Linked DNA regions of Homo sapiens. Changing the gene in region 1 together with any one later gene gives a genetic interaction. Each region holds a gene or a part of one and is shown in the gene's direction. Other genes may lie near its edges. The genes, in order: NOTCH1, APBB1 and HEY2.

The links.
Region 2: of NOTCH1 (region 1) and APBB1, changing one suppresses a phenotype caused by changing the other (phenotypic suppression), as found in Homo sapiens cells (one study listed by BioGRID).
Region 3: changes in NOTCH1 (region 1) and HEY2 together harm fitness more than expected from each alone (negative genetic interaction), as found in Homo sapiens cells (one study listed by BioGRID).

Annotation. Positions count from the first base shown.
Region 1 is NC_000009.12:136,535,976-136,543,075, reverse strand, and holds part of NOTCH1 (neurogenic locus notch homolog protein 1 preproprotein), read left to right. Parts: intron 1-7,100. UniProt on the Homo sapiens protein: Functions as a receptor for membrane-bound ligands Jagged-1 (JAG1), Jagged-2 (JAG2) and Delta-1 (DLL1) to regulate cell-fate determination.
Region 2 is NC_000011.10:6,416,090-6,423,896, reverse strand, and holds the start of APBB1 (amyloid beta precursor protein binding family B member 1), read left to right. Parts: upstream 1-4,802; 5' UTR 4,803-4,912; intron 4,913-7,807. UniProt on the Homo sapiens protein: Transcription coregulator that can have both coactivator and corepressor functions. Adapter protein that forms a transcriptionally active complex with the gamma-secretase-derived amyloid precursor protein (APP) intracellular domain.
Region 3 is NC_000006.12:125,744,722-125,752,652, forward strand, and holds the start of HEY2 (hairy/enhancer-of-split related with YRPW motif protein 2), read left to right. Parts: upstream 1-4,910; 5' UTR 4,911-5,055; coding exon 5,056-5,138; intron 5,139-5,148; exon of another isoform or gene 5,149-6,805; intron 6,806-7,079; coding exon 7,080-7,158; intron 7,159-7,285; coding exon 7,286-7,369; intron 7,370-7,931. UniProt on the Homo sapiens protein: Downstream effector of Notch signaling which may be required for cardiovascular development. Transcriptional repressor which binds preferentially to the canonical E box sequence 5'-CACGTG-3'.

The DNA of each region.
Region 1 (7,100 bases):
GAGTCTGGTTTCTGTCCTGGCATCTGCAAACTCTGACCTCAAAATCCCGTGGCCCTTCTGGTCTGCCAGCCTCAGATGTAAAATGGGCACTGAGGGGGCCGGGAAGTCGTGCGGAACCGCTCCCTCCTGCCTGCCTGTGAGTGCCCATCAGCCGTGGGGAACTGTTCTGCTGTGGCCGATGCCCTTCAACTTGAGTCCATCCCTGATGAGAATAATGAGGAGGTGTTTGGTGTCTGGAAAAAGAGTTCCCTCCGCCCCCCAGGAGCTACAGATGAAGAAATGGCTCCCCAGCCAGTCTGCGCGCCCTCATTCCAACTGCAGAAGGTCCCATTCCCTTGACAACCCCAGCCCGGCTCCTGCCTGTGCCGACTGCCCAGCCTGTGGGCAGCAGGCCCCCTCCCTCCCCGGCCCCCACCCTCCCCAAACTGAAGCCAATTAAGCAGGTCTGTGAGCAGTTTAATGGACAAAGCCGATTGTGTCTTTGTCAGACACTAATGAATGCGCACTACTTTTTTTTTTTTTTTTTTTTTTGCTTTTTGGGGCCCCCTTCTCCCTCTGCAGAAGCCGCACGGACGCTTGATGCCCTAAATCTTGTTTCCTTTCATTCAGAGACCGACAGCTGGGATCCAGGGGAAGTGCAGCAGCTATTGTTGGGGGAGGCGGATTAATGCCGTGTGATTAATTATGCGTGGCTTCCCAGAATGTATAACCCCCTTCCCCGCCACTGCGCTCCCGGCTCGGACTTTGCCTCTCACCCATTCGGGGCTCTGGGAGAAGCTTCTTGCTCCTGCAGAGGACTTTGGGAGGGTGGGAGGAACACCGTGCTGGGAAAATTGGGGGCCTGTTGCTTCTTCTCAGTGGCACCAGGGAGTAGGCACAGCCTGGCCCACAGGGGTCTGGGACTGAGGTCTCCCTGGGCCAGAGCGCTGTGCTTTGGGGTACAGATTGCTGCAGCTCCCTGGTGTCTGGGTTAAAACCCTGCCACAGGGCCGCAAAACACTGGTGTCATGGGCCCACTTTCCCATTCCCCAAACCTGGGATCCCGGTGAGCTGTTTCCAGCCCAAGGCAGGCCGCCGACCATGGCTTTGGTGCCTGGCCTTGTCCCCTTTGCTGGGGCCTGGCGCCCCCTCCTTCTTGGCGGGAAGCCTGCTTCAGTTTGGCCTGACAGGCAGCCGAGCTCAGCCCACAGAGACCCCATTGTGCACACCCCACAAGTCCAACGAGAAGATGGGACGGAAGCGCGTCCTCAGGCTCCTGCTTCTGGGCCGCAGAGTTGGAGGCCAGGGCCACAGCCGAGCCCGGCTTGTGGAGGCACAGGTCAGGGCTCACACAGCAGTCTGGGGGACATTGCAGCCGCTTCGGAGAAGGCCCCGGGCTCCCTCCCTGGGCTTGAGCCCCACCCAACATACACCCCTCAGGTGCCTCTGCCTTCCCGTTCCTGCCCATCCTTCTCAGAAGGCCCAGGAGGTCTGTCCAGGAGTTAGCCAGGGCACCTGCAGGAGGCCTGGCTCCCCCAGCAAGGGGAGAAACCCACACTGTTTCTCGAAAGAGTCTGGGGTGCAGGCTCTTGGAGCCCTGCCAGCCTGAGTGGGAATCCTGGCCCCGTGGTATCCAGCTGTGACCCCGGAAAGAGCTTTGGCTTTTGGTGCCATTTGCTGCCTCCGCTGTAGAAGGGGCATGGTCATGATGGGCGTCACAGTGCCTGGCTCACTAGTACTGGGTGAATCATTTCTTTCCATCCCAAAGAGAAGGAACCTTCACCGGAAGCTGCCAATCAGGTGGTTGCAGGGCCCGGGATTGGAAAAAGTGGTTTTGTTGGTGCAAAATGCCTTCCCAGGAGGTCAGAGTGTCGCCGTGGCCTGGTCAGCCAGTGGCCAGGTAGAAAGCACCTGGCAGCACATGCTGGTGGGCGGAGGATGGTTGGTCTCTGGGCAGCTGCTGTGCGAGGTGTGGCCGTGGTGGCTGTGGTCGGAGATGGTGGCCTTCTGAGCAGGCCCAGGGGGTCACTGTGGCCCTTGGCTCTTCTCTAGCCCCCTCATCAGCTCCGTCAGTGTGAGCAAGGGGTACTGAAGAGGGCTCCACCTTTTTTCTCTTTGTTTTGAGGAGAGCTGGGAAGAGCTGCAGGGACCCTATCTGTCTGGGTGAGACTACGTCCTTGGTCTGAAACGCTCTCCCAGGGCTGCCTGCGTCTGGGCTGGGCGTTGAGGCAGGGGGCAGCTAAGATGTTGGCTGCTGACGGCAGAGTCAGAATGGCACGGGGCGTCTTCCAGGAGCTGGGAGAAATGGGGGTAGGCTGTCACACCCAGCACCTCCAGGAGGATGTCCAGCTGCCTGCTGGGTGGTGCGCTTTAGCTTTGGACAACCTCGTGTCTGAGGCCTGGCCTGGCCACTAGCTCTGTGACCTTGGGTCATCAGGTCATGCAAGCCTCAGTTTCCCCAGCATGTCAGCCGGGCTGATACACGCTGGATCTCTTGGTGGTGTGTGAGGATTGCATGAGAACCGTGTGGAGAGGGCACCTGGTCAGCGCTCCTTTCTTCCCCGCCTTCTCCCCGTTGGCTGACAGTGCTGGTTTCCAGAGCCTCCTTCCTGAATGTTTAATTGATTGACGAGTGAATTCAGAGAATCCTAAAGGTGCTGCCTGGTGGGCTGGGCCTGGCACTGCCTGGGGAGGGACTTGCCGGCTCTGGGGAAGTCCATCTCCCAGGATGGCTCCAGCTCCGGGGAAGTCCATCTCCCAGGGTGGCTCCAGTTCACAGACACGTTTGAGCGCCTGCTGTGTGCTGCGTTCTGCTCCAGGCCAGGCCCCCGGTGGGGACAGGGCAGACATGGCCCCTGCTCCTGTGGAGTTCACTTCCCAGCAAGGCGTGAGAGAGGCACCTAGCTCACATGTGGGACATGTTGGGGGTGTGCCGGCCCGGTGGTGGCCTGGCATAGCTCCCGGCAGCCCCGTAAAGCTGTCTGGATCAGGCACCGATAAGTGAGAAGAAGAGACCCAGAGAAGTCGCCATCAGCCCCAGGGTCACACAGCAGTGGCAGAATTCCTACTAGCCCTGCCCCTCTCCTTCTCCCAAGCGAATGTCCCTAAACACAGCCCCAGCCAGCCTGAGCTGCCCCGTCATTTCCCGACTACAAGCGGACTGGGGGCGTGGCTTCCCCTTAAAAGAAGAGGAAGGAGGCTCAGGCGGGAAGTGACTTGGCCCTGCAGCCGGCCTGGGAGGCTGGGGAGGGACGGGGTAGCTCCTGTCACCCGGTCTGGCTCTTTCCATTGAGTCACCTGCCTCGTCTTGGGCGTGGCCAGGGGAGGAACAGGTTGATTCTCCTCCTCATGCTGAGCTGAGCGGAAAGGCCTGTGACAGGACCTCCTGTTTATGCAGAACCTGGTCTTCAAGGGCGCCAGGGTTAGAAAAACATGTTTAAAAACATGCAGCATCCGAGGTGGGCAGATCACCTGAGGTCAGGAGTTCAAGACCAGCCTGGCCAACATGGCGAAACCCCCGTCTCTACTAAAAATACAAAAATTACCCAGGCGCAGTGGCGTGTGCCTGTAATCCCAGCTACTTGGGAAGCTGAGGCAGGAGGATCCTTTGAACCCAGGAGACGGAGGCTGCAGTGAGCTGAGATCGTGCCACTGCACTCCAGCCTGGGTGACAAAGTGAGACTCTGTCTCAAAAAAACAAAAAACAACAAAAAAAACCCCACACAGTGTCAAATAGAAAGTCTCACCTACTCAGACTGGGGAGACATCAGGAACAGGAAGGCCTGGGGCGGAGACTGGGGTGGGAGCCTGGAGTGCTCTGAAGGAAGCTGGCTCCTTGGGGCAGGCCCTGCCTCTGAACAGCAGCCAACATGTTTTCCATTGAAAAGAATAATAATAGAAAAAGAGAGAGGGAGAAAGAAAACAGCAACCCTGGCAGGAAGAGGGTAGGGCAGGGCAGACAGTGCACCAGGGGAAGTGCTTCCACAGGGCAGAGCTGGGTGCGGGGACCCCCAGATGCGGGCGGCAAACTGGAGACCCCACAGGAGCCGGGACTGGCTTCATTCCTCATTCCCTGCACCTGTGATGGGCAGCAGCGGCCACCGGTGCCCACTGGGCAGTTCCAGGCCGGGCCGAGGGACTGCACCCTTTTGCTGTGGGGAGGGGACCTTTCCTGTTTCATGTCTCGTCTATAAATAGTGAAAGGATGTGGCTTTGCAGAATCGATTGGGCGTCTAGCTTGCCTTCCTCAATAATGCAGCGATGACAGCTCCACACTCAGGACGCCGCTGTTACCCAGCCTCGTAAAAGCCCTGGCAGACGGCCGCCCACCCTCCAGGTGTGCCAGTGCAGTTTTCATCCCCAGCGCACAGGTGGGAAAGCTGTGGCTGCGAGGGCGTGGGGATCTGAGGCAGGCTGGCGTCAGCTTTCACCTTCATGTGCAGGCATATCCAGAACTTTCCGGATCTTTCCCCGGGCTGAGGAGGAAATACCAGCAGCTTTAACGAGCGGCTGGCTTTGGGGCATCACACCTGTGGGCCGGGCTGCGTTTGACGGCCTCGAGTTTCCCAGGCAGCGCTGGCGCTTTCTCCTGTGGGGCCCGGAGCTCCGAGGGGCTGTGAAGCAGGGCTGGCTCTGATTTGCTGTGCTCCCCACACTGTCCCCTCCCTGGGCCTCAGTTTCCCCATCTGTATGTGATTCCCCTTCCAACTACAGCCAGCGGGACCCTGGGGCGGGCTGAAGGCGTGGTGGTGGCTGTGGGCCCTGCGGCGAGGCCTGCGCTGGGCTCGGTGGTCGCCCCAGCTGGGGAAGGGGCAGTGGCTGCAGGGGTGGGAGGGTGGAGGGAAGCCCTTTTCCAAAGTTGCCTGGTTGGGTTCTCCTTGTGGCCCTGCCCCACCCCACCCTGCTCCCTGGGAGCAAAGGGAGCTAAGGACTGGTTTGGGGATGGATATGTATATGGAGGGATTCTGGGTGATGACTTATTCATATTACAAAATTTGCCTTTTTTTGTTTGTTTTTTGAGATGGAGTCTTGCTTTGTCACCCAGACTGGATTAGAGTGACGCAGTCTTGGCTCACTGTAACCTCTGCCTCCCAGATTCACGCGATGCTCCTGAGTAGCTGGGACTACAGGCACATACCACCACTCCCAGCTAATTTTTGTATTCTTAGTAGGGGCAGGGTTTCACCATATTGGTCAGGCTGGTCTCAAACTCCTAACCTCAGGTGATCCACCTGCCTTGGCCTCTCAAAGTGCTGGGATTACAGGCGTGAGCCACTGTGCATGGCCACTTTTTTGTTTTTTGAGATGGGGTCTCACCCTGTCACACAGGCTGGAGTGAAGTGGTGGGATCACGGCTGACTGCAGCCTCAAACTCCTGGGCTCAAGCGATCCTCCTGCCTCCGCCTCCAGAGTAGCTGGGACCACAGGTGTGCACCACCATGCCTAGCTAATTTTAAATTTTTTTGCAGAAGCGGGGTCTTGCTATGTTGTCCAGGCTGAAAATGTGACTTTTGAACTAAAGCATGCTGTTGCTTGACATCTAGTCCATTCACAAGTTCATTCAACCACTATCTAGTTCCGGGACTTTCTCACTGCACAAAACAGAAACTGTACCCAAATACTGTCACTCTGCCCTGACTGCCCCAGCCCCTGGCAACCACTAACCCGCTTTCTGCCTCTGAATTCGCCTCTTCTGGACGTTGCCTATGAATGGAATTGTGCCATAGGTGGTCTTTTGCCCCTGGCTTCTTTCACTGAGCGTGATGTGTTTAAGGTTCATCCATGTCACGCGTGGACTAGAACTGCATTCTTCTGAGGACTACATTTTAGCCTCCAGAAGCATCAGGGACTGGCCAGAGGTGGACCCCAGCATCCCAGCTCCCAGACAGTCCAGAGGAGGCAGGTGTTGGGAGGGCGTCCGGGGTGGCTTCCTGGAAGAGATGGCGCTCACTCTGGGCCGGTGCAGCCACCCGACAGCCACAGAGCCCCCTAGAGGGAGTCCTGGCATATTCCCAGGTGAACCTGTAGGATGGACTGGCGTGCCCGCGGCCCCTGTCCTGCTCAGGACTCCGAGACAGGCTCACAACCTGTCCCTGGGCCTCACTCATGCCAGCCGCCAAGCTGTTCAGCATCCCTTAGCCCCCAGGAGGCACACAGTGGGGCCGCGGTCACTGAGCGTCCACACGCCTGGTGCTGTAAGAATGCAAAGTAGAGGGTCTTTATTGAGCATCTACTACATGCTGAACCCTGGGGTATGGGTGGGCACGGCAGATGCAGGCCCCCCTGGGCAGGGGAGGAGCATGCCCCTTAAGAACCAGGCCACAGGATGGACGGGCTTGGCCACAAGCTAGGGGTAGTCACTGCAGCCTTCATGGCCTCCTGTGTGCAAAGTCAGTGCTGTGGGACCCCATCTGGGTGCACCTGCTGTGGCTTTCAAGTGAGGCCCACCACGGAGCAGCTTCCACGCTGGCTGGGACAGGGTCAGCGGCAGGGAGCTCCAGACCAAAGGAGCGGCGGTGGCTGGGGCAGCGGGGGGCAGTGAGGCTTTGGACACATCCATGGGGCGGGCAGGCATCTCAGCCCCCACCCGCCCAGTCTGCCTGCTCCGGGGCCTTCCCTTCCCTGGACAGAGCTCTGTGTGATTGGCTCCAGGCTGCTTCTCCCCCTGGACCCTCAGGGTCAGCTTAGAGTGACTGGCTATGCCCTGGCCTAGATCCAGGCCCGTGTGACAGGAGAGAGCTAGGAACCTGGCCCCTCACTCTGAGACACAGATGGTGTCCTCTCCAAGTTGCCCTTGGGACGGGGAAGCGCCATGTCCCCTGCAGGGCACCAGGCCAGCCAGTGGCCCTTGACAGCGAGGCCCTGTCTGCAGGCAGCTGGGGGACTTCTCCCTGTCGGGAGGATGCGTGCGTGTTAGCATCGGGGTGCCTGGTTGCCCCAGGGGTGGTGCAGGGCGGTTATAGGCGGTCCTAGCATTTTGGGGTTGCTTTCAGTGTATCTCCGAGACCTGTGGAATTCTGGGAGGAGAAACTCCCCAGCAGTGTCCTCAGTGCGCCCCCCTACCCTGTACCCGTTGCTCCTGGGAGGGATCCTGAGTGCTCCCCCCCACCCACCATGCACCC
Region 2 (7,807 bases), on another chromosome or scaffold:
CATTTGATGTTGTTGACCACTTCTTCCCCCTTGAAAGTCTTTCCTCTCTTGGATTTCTTCCATGACATTACTCTCTCCTGATCCTTCTCTTACCCTTCTGCTAATTCTCAGCTTTCTTCTTGACTGTCTTTTTCTGTGCTGGCTCCTAAACACTGGCATTCCAGAGTTCAGTTCTCAGTCCTTTTCTCTTCTCACTCTATACTCTTCTAGGTAGTTGTTGGAATAGTCCTGTTGAACCAGGCTTGGTTGCTCACCCCTGTAATCCCAGCACTTTGTGAGACCAAAGTGGGAAGATTGCTTGAGTGCAGGAGTTCCTGACCTGCTGGGGCAACATAGTGAGACCCCCATCTCTTCATAATAAACAAACAAAAGAATAGTTCTGTTGAAGAAGGGTATTGGATTGAGAAAGTTTTTGCTAGGTCTTGAATTTGACTTAGGAATTCCACTTCATGTAGCATGTGGGAAGACTTTATTCCTTATAGATTTTCCAAATGAAAACCGCCATCAAGAAGAAAAGAGGTGTGTCAGATCAATCATAAGAAAATTTACAATACCAAAGCAGTACTTATATATAGTGGAGGATAAAGCTGCCTTCATTCCAGAAGTGTCTTTACTTTTAATAGAGATGAAAGCTCTATACTTTCATATAGGTGACTTGGGTGCCAACTGCCTAGTAATTCTAATTAGCTAGACTACCAAACCAAATAGCATAAAGCCACTACTCTTGGTAAATGACTCTAGATGGATTTGCTTATAATTCAATTTTTTCCTGATAGGTCCAAGGTAATAATTTTCAAAGTCTGCTGCCTCAGAGGAACCCACATTGGTCAGAACCAAATGCAGCATTTGAGGTGGCTCATAGGCTATTCATTGGTTGCTCCCACACCATAGAAAGCATCAGAAGAGGGAAGAGATTACAGTAGGGAAAGGATGGGTGAAAGGCACAGGTTGATTCCCCATTGGTCAGGAGACTTTGCAGACCTCAGAGGAGATCAGGAATTCAGGAAGATCGCCTGCGGGTCAAATACATAAGGAAAAAGATGCCCATGTGAACTGCACATGGGCATCCCTAGCTAATTAGAGTCCTCCCTTCAACCTCATCATGCAATCTATGTCCTTCTTACCTGAAGAGATTTCCCTGAATACTGCAGCCTTCCTGCTCAATGAGATTGGGAAGACAAATATTTTGGTGGGCTATCTGTAAATGGGTGATACTTCTGGATTTTTTTTTTCATTTTCTCAAAAATAAATCTAGATGTCATTTTTTAAATCTACAATTCCATAGCTAATCAACCAACTGATCACTGATTTCTGGGAATTCTACCTCTTGAATATTTATTAAACCTATGCAATTTTCTCCATCCCTAGTCCCACCACCAGAGTCCAAGCCATCATCATCTTTAACCTGGTCTCTTGCTTCCTAACTGGTCTATATTCTTCCAATTTTGCTTTCCACCTATCTATTCTTCCTCAGGAGCTGAAAGCGATCTTCTAAAATGCGAGTGTGAACATGCCCCTCTCCTGCTTCAAACCCTTCCATGATTTTCCATTGCCCTTAAAATAAAGGTCAAACCCTTAGCTCAGCATATAAGGCCCTCCTTGATCTGGCACTTTCCCACCTTCCTATTTCATCTTATGCCATTCTCCACTATCACAACTGTTAGGCTGTTCTTGTGTTGCTGTAAGTAAATACTTGAGACTGGGTAATTTATAAAGAAAAGAGGTTTAGGGCCAGGTGTGGTGGCTTATGCCTGTTATCCCAGCACTTTGGGAGGCCAAGGCGGGCGGATCACGAGGTCAGGAGATTGAGACCATCCTGGCTAACACGGTGAAACCCCATCTCTACTAAAAACACAAAAAATTAGCTGGGCATGGCAGTGGGTGCCTGTAGTCCCAGCTACTTGGGAGGCTGAGGCAGGAGAATGGTGTGAACCCGGGAGGCGGAGATTGCAGTGAGCCGAGATTGCGCCACTGCACTCCAGCCTGGGGGACAGAGCGAGACTCTGTCTCAAAAAAAAAAAAAAAAAAAGAAAAGAAAAGAGGTTTAATCGGCTCACAGTTCTGCAGGCTATACAGGAAACATAGCACCAGCATCTGCTTGGCTTCCAGGGGGTCCTCAGGAAGCTTTTACTCATGGCAGAAAGCAAAGTGGGAGCAGGCATCCCACATGGCTGATCAGAAGCAAGAGAGTGTGGGGGGAGAGGTGCCATACACTATTTATTTATTTATTTATTTATTTGAGATGGAGTTTCACTCTGCTGCCCAGGCTGGAGTGCAGTGGCGTGATCTCGGTTCACTGCAGCCTCCGCCTCCTGGGTTCAAGTAATTCTCCTGCCTCAGCCTTCCAAGTAGCTGGGACTACAGGTGCCCGCCACCATGCCCAGCTAATTTTTTTGTGTTTTTAATAGAGATGGGATTTCACCATGTGGACCAGGCTGTTCTCGAACTCCTGGTCTCAAGTTGATCTGCCCACCTTGGCCTCCCAAAGTGCTGGGATTACAGGCCTGAGCCACCACGCCTGGCCATGCCACACACTTTTAAATAACCGGATCTCACAAGAACTCACTCATCATGGGGAAGACAGCACCAAGCCATGAGAGATCCACCCCTACGACCTGAACACCTCCCACCAGACCCCACCTCCAGCATTGGGGATTACAATTCAACATGAGATTTGATCAGGGACAAATATCCAAACTATATCAACACCCATACTGACCTTCCTGTATTTCTCCTGCTACTTGGAATACTTTTCTCTTCTCCTGGCTGACCTCTAGCTCCTTCATCCCTTTCCCTCACTGAATTGTCACTTCCTATGAAAGCCTCCTAAACTTCCCAGGCCAAATTAAGCCCACTCACATAGCTCCCGGTACATCTCCTTCAAGACACTCATCACATTCCTAATTACATATTTAATGTCTCTTTCCCCTGTTAAATTTCAAGCTGTATGAGAGACGGAACTGTATCTTGTTTCTTGACCTGTTGCTAGCACCAAGGACAGTACCTCATACATAGTAATTATTTGATGAAAGAAAATGAATGAATGAATGAATGAGGACACTTTTGTTCTTCTGGGTAATTCTTCTTCATCTTTCAAGAACCCAGGTCAGATGTCATTTCCTCCAGGTGAGATGCAGTCAAATCTGATTCGTCTTTAGATCCCTAGGGCCTGGCTTGGGACCTGATACATGGTTCATATATCATAGGCATTTGTCAAATCATTATAAACTATTGGTTGTGAATTCATAATTGTTGAAACTGAATGATAGGTATATGAGGGTTCATTATATTGTTCTGTCTGCTTTAGTATATATTGGAAATTTGCCATAATAAAAAGTTAAAACATTTATATTTACCACAAGTAAAATAAAAGTATATTCAAAGATGACTTTGAAGCTTCTGGCTTGGGAAGCCAGTAGTTGGTGTCATTCATTGGAATGGATGGAATGGAGTTGTGTCCAGTGTGGGATGTGTGTTGTGTTGTGTGTGTTGAAGAGGGTTCTTTTTCACCCCAGTGAAACTCCTTAAAAGACTAATAAAGGGGGATGAAACAATAAATTGAGGCTGGACACTGTGTCTGACGCCTGTAATCTCAGCACTTTGGGAGGCCGAGGTGGGAGGATCGCTTGAACACAGGAGTTCCAGACCAGCCTGGGGAACACAGTGAGACCCCCTCTCTACTAAAATACAAAAAGCCAGGCGCGGTGGCACATGTCTGTGGCCCAGGTACTCCGGGGGCTGAGGCGGGAGGAATCTGAGCCCTGGAGGCTGAGGCTTCAGAGAGCCATGATCTTGCCCCTGGGTGACAGAGTGAGACCCTGCCTTGAAAGAAAGAACGAACTCAGATTTGGATATCTTTAGTTTTAGGCACCTGAGAGGGATTAGCATGTAGAGGCTTTCTGGATGGTAATATAACCTCTCATTATCCTTGATGGCCTCTGGGTCACTGATCTGACCATTGGGATGTATCCCACTATCCAGGGAGGGTCTGTAGTAAGTATTGCACCCCACCATCTTCCTTACATCTTTACACTTTTCATTCACAATATCCCCTTCCTTGTGAATTTCTACCGGGGAGCAATGTATTCTTGACATTTTCCAGGCCTTGATGTCAGCTTTATGCTCAGCAGCAGAGGTATTTCAGTGTCAAGAAACATCGGAGTTCCAGTCTAAATTCATCACTAACTGTGACTGCGGGCAAGTCGCTTTACCTCTCTTAATCTTAGCCTCAGCCTCTGAAAAATGAGGATAATAATTCTGGTGATTTTACAGAGCTGATGTGAAGATTAATGCGCGTTAACGGTTTAATAGAGAGCCCGGCACGGTGTAAGTGGTCAATAAATACGAGCTATTATTATGAGCAACGCTGTGTCCTCAGAGCCTCCCCACCAGGACGTCAGGGAGCGGTGCAGCAGGAGCGGCGCAGAGTGCCTCCCGGGAATCCTTCCCCGCGCGGCCGCGGCGCCGCACAGCCGCCGCCATTCGGGCTCCAGCCCCGTCCGCGCGTCTCCCGGCGTGGGTGCGGGACCAGGGCGCTGCGGGGCGCGCAGGGTGAGTCTGTGGAATAGTAGTGGAGGACGGCGCCGCGCTAGGCGGGGGTCCCAGGGAGTCGGCTGCAGGGGTGTCTGCTGGGAGGGCTGGACCGCGGGGCTCACCGAGGTCCGAGGGCCGCCCGCAGGGTGAGGCCCCCAAGAAGCTGCGGCAAGTGCCGCGCCCGCCGAGCTCGCTCCCGCGCCCGCCCCAAGATGGCGCCCCTCCCCCTCCCCTTGCGCGCGCCTCCGCCGCTCGGGGCGCGGCCCCGCGGCCCGCGCGCTCCTGGGCGGGGGATGTTGTGATGGAGAAGCCGCGGCGGAGCCCGAACCCCGCAGCCTGAGCCACCTCCGTCATCTGGGCCCGGGGCCTCACCGCGCAGGTAGGAGGTGTCCCTGCCCCGGCCCAGCCCCGGTGGCTGCGTCCCGATCACCAGCGGCCGGCGGACCCTGTAGCCCCTACCCTGCGGCAGCCCGGGTCCCCCGGCCGGCCCCATCCCCCATCCCCGGGTCGCCCTTCCACCGCGCGCCCGCAGACCGTCCTCTCATACCCACCATCGCAGGGTCCACTCGGGCCCTCACACCGTCCCTTCCGCTGCCCTTTACCTCCTGCCCCTCGGGGTGACTAGGGGCGGGTATGGAGGACGCGAAGCGAGGGGCAGTGGGTGTTGGGGGAGGGGAGGCCCAGGTCCGGGAAGGGGACGTGGGGTGGGGTGGGCTGGCAGGCCGCGCCGATTCCAGCAGGGGTCCCAGGCCCTGGATCTGTCAAGCCGCATTCTGTTGCCCTCAGCGACCGAGGGGTGTGCCCTGGGGCGGCTGTGTCCCCAGCTCAGCCAGGAGGCCTAGCACTGCCAAGAACACTGATTAGAAGCAGTTTTCCCACTGCCAATTCCTAACCTGTTTTGTATCGGCCTGTGTATCTCTTGCATTCTGAGCCCCTCTAGCTATAGTCCCAGCTCTCTCCGCCCTTCAGAGTCAACGCTTGCTGTCTTCATTTCCTTACTTCCCATTCATTCTTAAAAGCACTCCACTCTGTGTCCCTGACACCCACTGAAACTGTCTAGGCCAAGGTCACCGGAGACCTCCTTGTGGAGAACTCCAGTGGACACTGTTATCTCCTTTACCTTTGAGTAGTATTCGGTGGGGTATGTCAACTCACTCTCCTTGAAGCATTTTCCTGCTTTCTGCCCTACAGCATTGTCTGCTCTTCTCAATCTCATTTGCTTCCTCTCCTCCTCTCTTTAGATGCTGGTGAGGCTCTTGGCTCTGTCCCGAGCTGTCTTCTCTCAGTATCTGTTCTTTCTCCCCAGATATTTTATCTACTCCCAAAGCTTCAAATTTCATATATATGCTAATGATTCCCAAATTTATATATCCAGCCCAGACTTCTTTCCTGAAATCCAGACTCATATGTCCAGCTGCTCTCTTGACATCTCCTTGAAAGACAAACAGGAGTTCCAAACCTATAGATTCCAAGCTAAATTATCTTCTGTGGTTTTCTCTGTACCCCACTTCCAAATCTGTTCTTCCTTCGAATCTCAAAAATGGCTCTTTGCCAATCTGGAGTCATGAGCAAGACTTGAGATTAACCCCTCTCTCACTCTCTGCATCTCATTTCACCAAGTTCTGTCACATCCACTGCCTAAATATTTCTCAAATCCATTCATTTCGCTCTTTCCTCACTGCCACCAAAGTTAATCTGGGCCACCACCATTTTTTTTCCTTGACTACTTTAATAGCATACCCTCTTGCCTACCTCCCTTTAACTGTTCTCAACACAGTACCCAGAGTAATCCTTTGAAAAATGCTTCCAATCACTTATTCATGCAATAAATATGATTTCAGCACCTAATATATGCCAGGCACTGTGTTATGTCCTGAAGATATAATTGTGAGCAAAAGAGACTGAGTCCTTGGAGCTGACAATCTAGGAGAAAAATCAAATAAGAATAACATTACAAATGTAATATGTACCATGAAGAAAAGCTGTATGGTGCCTTGAGAACGCACAAGAGCAGTAGCTAAACTGGTCTCGGGGATAGGGAGAGAGGGTTGGAGGACAGCTTCTCTGAGAACATGACGTTTGAACTAAAATATAGTGGATGAGTAGAAGTTAATTCAGCTTAGAGAGTAGGAGAAGAGGTCCCAGGAAGCATGGAAATCACATGCAAACACCTTGTAGAAGGAAAACACATGTCTTCGAGGAATCAGAAGAAGGCTACTGAGGCTGCAGAGCAGTGTGACCAAAGCCAGGGGCAGGGAGGAGGAAGGCAGGCGCCAGACTGAGCAGGAAATTTAGGCCATGTTAAGAATTTGGTCTTAAGGGCCAGGCGTGATGGCTCACGCCTGTAATCCCAGCACTTTAGGAGGCCAAGGCGGGCGGATCACCTGAGGTCAGGAGTTCAGGACCGGCCTGGCCAACATGGCGAAACCCCATCTCTACTAAAAGTACACAAAAATTAGCCGGGCATGGTGGTGTGTGCCTGTAATCCCAGCTACTCAGGAGGCTGAGGCAGAAGAATCGCTTGAACCCGGGAGGCAGAGGTTGCAGTAAGCCGAGATCTTGCCACTGCACTGTAGCCTGGGTGACACAGCAGGACTCCATCGCAAAAAAAAAAAAAAGGGAATTTTGTCTTAAGGTCTTTGTCCTTGATGGTAGTGGATGTGGAGAGTAGATGAAGTCCAGAAATTTTTCTCAGAGAGGAAATCATCAGTACCTAGAGATGGATTGAACATAGCAAGTGCAGGAGAAGGACATGTCAAGATGTACCCCTACTTCAGATTCACAGAATAGGATGGATTCTATCATTCCATGAGCCGGGATCCTGAAAGAGGACCAGTTAGTGTGTGGGAGTGGGAAACATGAGTGGGTCTATTAGCTTGAGACATCCAAGTGGAGATGTTGAGTAGAAAGTTGAATGTACTTGTCTGGAGCTCAGGTGAGGGGTCTGAAATGGAGATTTGAATTGGGAAATCATCAGTGTATAACTGAAGCTGTGGGCATTAATGAATACTTATACTGATTATAGGATGAGAAAGAGGAAGGGGCATGAGAATAAGCCATAAGAAACTCCAGCAGGTAATGGCTAATAGAGGAAGATGAGCCAGCAGAGGAGTCTAGGAACCCAGCAAACAGTAACAAGAAGTGTAAAAGATGAGATGAGATGAGGAGTGTGGAGATGAGAGTGTGGAGGCCCCGGATAGAGGCTGGATGAGAGATTCACGGGGTCAGATGCTGCTGGGAGGACAACCAAGACGAGCACTGTGTCTGTTGGATT
Region 3 (7,931 bases), on another chromosome or scaffold:
AATTAACAGAGACACATGAGAATTTTAGACAAAATAATTATTTTAAATAATTAAATTATTTGAAGTCCATGAACAAGGCAAGCATGAAGTTCTTTTAGAATTCAGTGACTGGGTAATAACTTTCTTTTTTGAAAAACAGTGTGCTTTCTCTTTTCTCATTATGAAAGTTAGAAAACTCACTGTGCTTCTCTTCTGACTTGGCCACCAGGAAGTTCCATGTTGAACTAGGTCTTATTCACAGTTAAGTATTCCTTCCCATTTGAAGGCATATTCTCTTCATCTTTTCATAGCTTTTTAATGCACGGTTGCTTACTTCTATTTTATTATTCCAATGAGTGTAAATTCTACATATACAAGTAAAGAAGCAGAGAGTTCATTAATTTTAACAAGAAATTAATCTGAAACCATTTATTGTACCCCTACTGTGTGCTGGGCATTTTTCTAGGGGATGGGAATGTAGTTTATTAAAAGAATATTTTCATAAGAGAAGTGAATATGTTTCATTGTATCCTTAAGAGAGGGGGGAAATCTGCCAATCAAACCAACTTCAAGAAAATGGAAATTTAAAAGAACTTCCTTAAAGGCAAAGCCTGCCAACATCAATTTAACTCCCACAAAAAGTTAAGCTAATACACTGAGTGTTCTCACTGTTGCTTACTGGCACACGGAAAACTGGTTACTTGCTATACACCCCTCTTCTCAAGGGTCCTGCAATAAAACTAGTCTTTATCCTGAGGCATGCTAAGCACTAACAACACCATAAAATAAAAGCTTTTAAATAAATTGCCCCTCAACAACAGTTTTAAAGATCAGTTTAAACATTCTAACTTTCGAGAGAGAGCTTTGGGTCATAGATTTCCTACCTTGAAGCTTCTGCTGTAACAAGTAAGTCGCAATTACTGGGGCAAGCCAAGAAATACAATGCATTTTGTGTGGCTGACTGGGCAAGAAAAATTAACTAGTAAAGCAGCTCCCTTTCAGGGATGACTTCAAGGTTGGTGGGCCTAAATTTGCACTTGCTTTCAGCTTTGTTTTGCTTTACTGGCTTGCAAATATGTGTCACACAGTGACCCTAGGTTGGCCTGCCTGCTGCCAGCCTGATGTTGGAAAAGGTATTGAAATGTACAAGGATCTTGCCCTTGGCCTCCACTCCTAGGGCGCAGCATTCTCACACATTTTAAGGCGTTACCAGCTCACAAAAGCCTTGTAGTCAGGGAAGGCAGCCCAACAAGGCTGCCCACAGATACACACGTGTTTGTCACCTGCCCCAGCAATTGCAAATAGAATAGCTCTTCTCAAGGCAACCTGTTTGTCCTCCCTTTGAAAGAGAAGGCTGTGTAAATAATTATATTTCAGATGTGGCAAAATATTGGAATTTTCAATTTGGACTATGCTCTTAGGCATCTCAGACTAACACAAAGTTTTCTAATTAACAGAGATGCCCTTATTTCACTGAGAAACCAAGCTAAAACTTTTAAATGGTGTCACATCTTGGTGACTTTCTAAGCCCATCAAATACCTGAGTGGCCAACGTTTTTTACGTAGCTGCGAGCAGCATCTCAAAGGATTTAGAGAAGCAACAAATAACAAAGTGTGACAGTCGATCTTGGAAAACCAGAGGGCTCTAATGAAGCAAAAAGTAGATGAAGAGGCATAAAAAAAATCCAGGTTCGTTCCAAAAAAGTTTTACAATTATAGCAAAGCAATCATTTCATCGGTTTGTGCAACAAAATTCAAAATCTGCGGGGCGAGATAATACTTGGCCAACATCGCCAAATTTATCAATACGGGTGTAAAAACTGTAACTTTTTATTAAATGGGTGTGAAAAGAGTCGGGGAGGAGGAACAGGACCACTAAATCTGGTATTTCCAGATCTCTGCATTCAACATCTCACTCCCACGCCATTAAGTTAAATAACATTTAGCACAAAACACAGGCTAGACCACCAATTTCGGGAGGGCGTCTGAGTCTTCCCTTCTCCATTCCCTTTAGATCGGCCGTCCTGGCCTTTCTTTCCTAACGGCATCTCCTTTCTAATAAAGTCCCTCGTATCTTTTGGTGTAATTAACTCATGGTACAAATCCTTCAAAAAGAAAGGAAAGAACTGCGGTTTGCTCTACGCGCGGACATCTTTTCTTCCTAAGCCTTCCCTTTCGCTGAAAAGGTTGTCGCAGAAGGGCGGGGAGGCTTGAAATCCCGCCGTTCCCTCATTCTTTCTCTTTTCTTTCTCTCCACATAACGCCTCCCCTACACCTCCCCACCTCCAATCCACTACCGTATTTAAGTCGGCGGGGGCGCTTTAAAGGGTTTCCTGTGTCTGTTTCTGTCTCTCTGACCCGAAACGCACTTTCGGTTATAGACAGACAAGGCGCTCAACCAAGGGACAGGCAAATGGAATAAACAGCTGAGGAGAATAAACGACCTAATGGGGAAATCTCGTGCTGCCTAATTGCTATTGTGTTTTGCAGATAAATAAGCATATTATTTTGATAGCGTTCAAAACCCTGAGCTCTCTTGCCCTATGCATTCTTAACAGACTTCTATGGCGCTTACTATATACCAGGCGCTGTTTTAAATGCTTTTAAAATACCACCTTCTTTGCTTAAAAAATATTTTTAACAGATTTAAAATTCCGTGTGTGCTTTCGAACTTCCCTGCTATACTCTTCTTTATACATAGTACAGCAGTTGTCTTCAAAGACAAATTGAAAAAAAACTTTAACCAGTTGCTACTTAATTGCCAGCAAATCGTTTCCCTCTGCAATTTTTCGCAATCATAATTAAATACACTAGTATAGTGGCAAAGAACTGTTAGATTTTTTTTTTTCAGTGATGATCTCAGGTTTTGCCTCAGGCGTTTGGACGCGCCCGCTAATTGCCCGTGTGGCAAACATGAGTTGCACCTGCAGGCATTTGAATTCAGAAAAACGTGCAGCCCTCACGGAAAGTTGTGACGGTCGAGCTTGAGCCTGGCGGGCCGCGGAGCGTTCACCTGCGGCCGGGAGGTACTGGCCCAGGGCGCTCGGGGCGGGAGGTGGCAGGCGACCGGCGCGCGTCAGGCTCGTCACCCGCTGGATTGCGGGGCCGGAGCGGGGACGGGGTCTGGGTCCTGGCCCGCCCTCGTGCAGCCGATCGGAGGCCCCGAACCCCGCGCCGACCCAGCCATCCGCCCTGAGGCCGACAGGGGAGCTGGGGTTCACCGACCCCCGCGGCCCCGCCGTCGGGCGCGGACCCCATCCAGCCCCACCTGGCCCCGCCGAGTGTGTGCTTTGCCTGGGGTTAAGTTTCAGAAGCCAAGATGGAACGATTCGGGTTTCTATTCACAAGGTTATTGAAGGCATGGCGGTGGGGACCGCGCAAAAGAGATGAGAGTGTGGGGGGAAAGGGGTTTCTGTTCTAATAAGGGCTTAGCACGCTGGCCGCAGGTCCTCCGCGCCGACCGGGCTCCTTCCCGCTCTCCCCCGGGCCAAACCCCGCCAGGGTCCCGTCTTTCCCAGTCGCGTCCTTTCCTCTTCTCCCCGCCCCGCGCCGGGCTTGTGTGGACAGAGAACGGAGTGTCAAAGGGACGCCCTGGGCCGATCCCCAGGAAGCTATGAATCCCTCCGTGACGGAGGGGTCTGGGGATCGATAGACGGCCCTTTCTCAGAGGCTCTCTCCACTACTGACCAAGCGGCCCTGCCAACGTGTGGTTTCCGGCTGGACCCCAACCCAGCCGCCGCCAGTCTCCCGGCGCCCCTGGCTGGGTCTCGCTCAGTCCCTGCCCTCGCAGACGCACAGCGGGGTGGCCAGTTCAAAAGTCCTACATAACTTGGAGAGAACCAGCAGCTAGAAAACCTGTTTTAAACACACAGCTTGAGTTTTATACAACCCACGTTGTCCAAGGCACGAACTGTTGGACACGAATTCATACTTTAGAAACCAAATCTAATTTCCAAGCGCCAATCTTCACCTCCCGGACTCTAACTCTGCGGCTGCGAGTGCATACACCAGGGGGACTGGAGGAGACTGGAGGCAATTATCTGGATAATCCAAGCCCGAAAAACTCGAACTTGAAAATATACGATTATGTCCTGAAATGCCCGCGTCATTGATCTAGTCTTTCCTACCATCAGAGCTGACACAGCTCCAGTCCACGGGCTTCTCCGCGGGGTCTAGGATCCACAGTCCCTGGGGGCTGAAGACCCAATGGAAGTAACTGATGGATCGCAAATTGGAAATCGTAACGTGGCCGACAGACCTGATCAGGAAAACTCGCGTCCTTATATGAAACAGCCCCGAGGCCGCGAAAGTAGCCTCAGGAGTTGTCAGATTCAAAAGCAATTTTGATTTAAGGTTTTCAAAAGCCCCAGAGGGCAAATGTGACCACTCGGGTCAGCCAGTCAGCAGTTTGGATCCAGACAGGGGACCACCGAGTGGGGCGGCCGAGGAGCCGCGGCGCCTCCCGACGTCACACGCGCCTGCTCGCACTTAGCCACGCGCTTGGGGTTATTCTTTACACTCAGGACTGAAACTTCGCCCGCGAGACCGCGGGGCGCGGAGGAGGGCCGAAACCCAAGGTCCAGGTCCAGGGCCCGCCCCCGCGCGCCCGCGTTGGCGCCCGCGCGCTCCCTCCGCAGGGGTTAGCAAGATTGCGCTCATTCTCGCCCCGGCTGCTCCCCACCCGCTCGCTGCTCTGGGGTACCAGGTCCGCGGCCGCGTTCCCACGCCTCGGCTGGAGCCTTGCGGCGGGCATTGGCGAGCGCGGCCCCGCCCCCTGGCCCAGCCAATCGCGAGCCACGCCGACCAGCGAGGGGGAGGTGCCGGGCGGAAGGCCTGGGCCGGTGCGCGGGGGCGGGTGAGGTGGCCCCACCCGCTCGAGGGGGGGGCGTGGCCGGCGCCGGCTCTTGCGGCCGAGCAGAGTTGCGGCGTGGGAAAGAGCCGCTAGGAGCAGACCGCGCCGCCGCCGGAGCCGCGCCTGCCCAGGCCCGGGGAGGGAGGAGGCGGGCGTCAGGGTGCTGCGCCCCGCTCGGCGTCCGAGCTTCCGGCCGGGCTGTGCCCCGCGCGGTCTTCGCCGGGATGAAGCGCCCCTGCGAGGAGACGACCTCCGAGAGCGACATGGACGAGACCATCGACGTGGGGAGCGAGAACAATTACTCGGGGTGAGCGCGGGCTCCGCGGGAGCGGCCCGCAGCTCGGGAGCTTGGGGTAGCTTTGTGAATGCGTGGCTCCCTGGAAATCCCGAGGCTGGTCTCCGCAGCATCTAGGTAGAGAGGGAAAGTTTGGCCTGAGAAAGTTTGAGTGGTGGGCGCTCGCAGAGCGTGAGTTGGGATGGGGCAAGGGATGTGGATTTTCACCGTAGGGGTGGAGTAGCCAGGATGGGAGACGCCACTGAAAGGCAGAGCGCAGGAGTTGGCGAGGGAGGGTCCTGGCTGTCACAGTTGGACGCGCGAACGGCAGCGTCTGGGCGACAGGCGATGTCCCAGCCACTGAAACCGTATTTGGGGGCACTTTCAAAATAGATCAGGAGAAAATAAAAACAATTTGATTTTTGATTTTTAGAGATACCAAAATCACAACTTGATTTTTGGAGGAATTAAAGCAACCTGCGATGTCAAGGCTACGTAGGTTGAACTTTGCAGGTTGACCGTGTGTGACTTGGCTAACGCAAGAGTGAGTGACAGATGTAAGCATCGGAAAGGGCATCATTTCTTTGACTGCTTGTTCTCAAGTCTGGAAGAGATCGGCGTCGTAATCACAGAAGCCAGACCTCCACTTTCCTGTGACAGAGGGAGATTACCGAGGCATTTTAGAGCCAAGGCGGGTCAAATGATAATTGCTTCTAATTGGCATCCCCAGAAGCACCTTAATTATTTATCTGCAGCTGTCACTCAAAGAGGGAAATTCTTCCTACCTTTGGAAAACTGGTTTTCTTTCATATTGTTATTCTAATACATACAAAGCAAAGCACAAAATCTGCAAGAGCAAAGATATTTACACGAAAGCAAAGGTTTAAGTATCTGATCATTAAAGTGTTGTTGTGCCGTCTTTAAAAATGAGGTCTGAAAAACAGAAGCTATCACGTGAAAGGTGAAACCCGTAAAGAAGGGGTGAAAATGAGGGGGACAGGTAATTCAGAAATAAGATCCAGAAGTGAGAAGGTGAGGTAATAGCAACCTGGTGTGTGCAGCATTTCTAAAATGAAAGAGAACAAATAACAGGAACCTGGGGAATTTGAGAACACAAAGAAGCATAGTATCCATGAATTATGAAGAGAAACAGATACAAACTAGAAAGGATTGTAAAAATTATGTGACCAAATAATACTTTGATTGAACCTTCAATATAAAAATATATTTTCATTAGTAAATCCAAGGTGCATTGCAGCTTCTGGAGATTTAAGCTTAGCCTAAAGTCTGAGACACACCTACAGTTTCATTTTCAAAGTAAAACATTCACCTAGTAATAAAATGAGTTTTAATTTTCCTATCAGTGGCATATTTAGGGCATATTTTTGGAAGATTAGTATGCAAAACATCAAGTTTGTCAATTTTTTCCTGTTGCAATATATGACTAACTGAAGTTTTGAAACAGTAAGATAACTTCTATTTATTTTAAAGTTTGCACCTAGAGACAAGAGTTTGACGTATGACGACTGCACATCTGTTTGATAGTGGTGCTTAACATAACCCTGATTTGAAAAAGTGGCATTATTTTGTTCAGTGTGCCTGACAGGAGGGAGAAGGAAAGCTATTTGAGATTAGTTGACTTTAAAATATATGAGTGGAACTAGGAAATGCTAATATCTAACTTCTCAGCCCAACTGCCGGTAATTATTTCACTGGGAGACTTTCAAGTAAAAATTGTGGGACATTTTGGCCAATGGGTTAGCATCTGGATTACAAATTAAGGCGTAATTTTTACCTGAAAAGAGACAGCCGGGCTGAAAGCAAAGTCCGTTAAGAGTGAAACAAGAACTAAGAATAAAATAACACAGACTTGAACTGTGCAATCACTCTGAATATTTAATGGGTGCCACAAGTACCCAGAAGAAACTATTGTTATGTTAATGCAGCACCTGACATACTCTTCTTATTTCATAGGCAAAGTACTAGCTCTGTGATTAGATTGAATTCTCCAACAACAACATCTCAGATTATGGCAAGAAAGAAAAGGAGAGGGGTATGTGATTTTTCCCCCTTTTTATTTCATGTAACTTATACTATTGTGTAACAGTTACATTTTTTCATTTGAGTAATTTTATCATTTGTGAATTCATAAACTTTTGTTGTTTGCTTCTTTTGGATAGATTATAGAGAAAAGGCGTCGGGATCGGATAAATAACAGTTTATCTGAGTTGAGAAGACTTGTGCCAACTGCTTTTGAAAAACAAGTAAGCTATCCCCTCCCCAGAATCCCCCCACCCACCCCGCCACCCCCCAAAAAAAAGCTCAAACACAATCTGATTCGCTCATCTGGGAATGTGGGTTCTTGTTAAAGCTCATTAAAATAATAGTGTATGTGCCCTGATCTGGCACAGAGCAGCTATTTCAATAAAATGCTTTGTTGTGGCAAAACTATTAAAAACATAATCCATCATGAAGTTGAAAAACATTTCCATTCTTTAGCTTATTTTCCCCTTAAGGGTAACAGTGTTCATGCTTTCTCTGTTCTTTCTATGAATACCAGTAGTGGTTTTATTTAAAACTGTGCTGTATACCGTATCCTTCAAAAAAAAAAAAAAAACCATTTTTTTCTCAAAATTTTTTTAAAATGTAATATTTTTAATTAAAAAACAATCAGAGCCCAAGAAGTAACATCTCTAGCTCTATTTCCTAAATGATAATACCACTAAAATTTATTTACCAAGCCATTTGCTTTCATTTTTAATCCCTGGGTTGGTAGAATGCCATTTGATTTGGGTCATCTTTTTAGAAGTTTGGTAAAAATGAAGT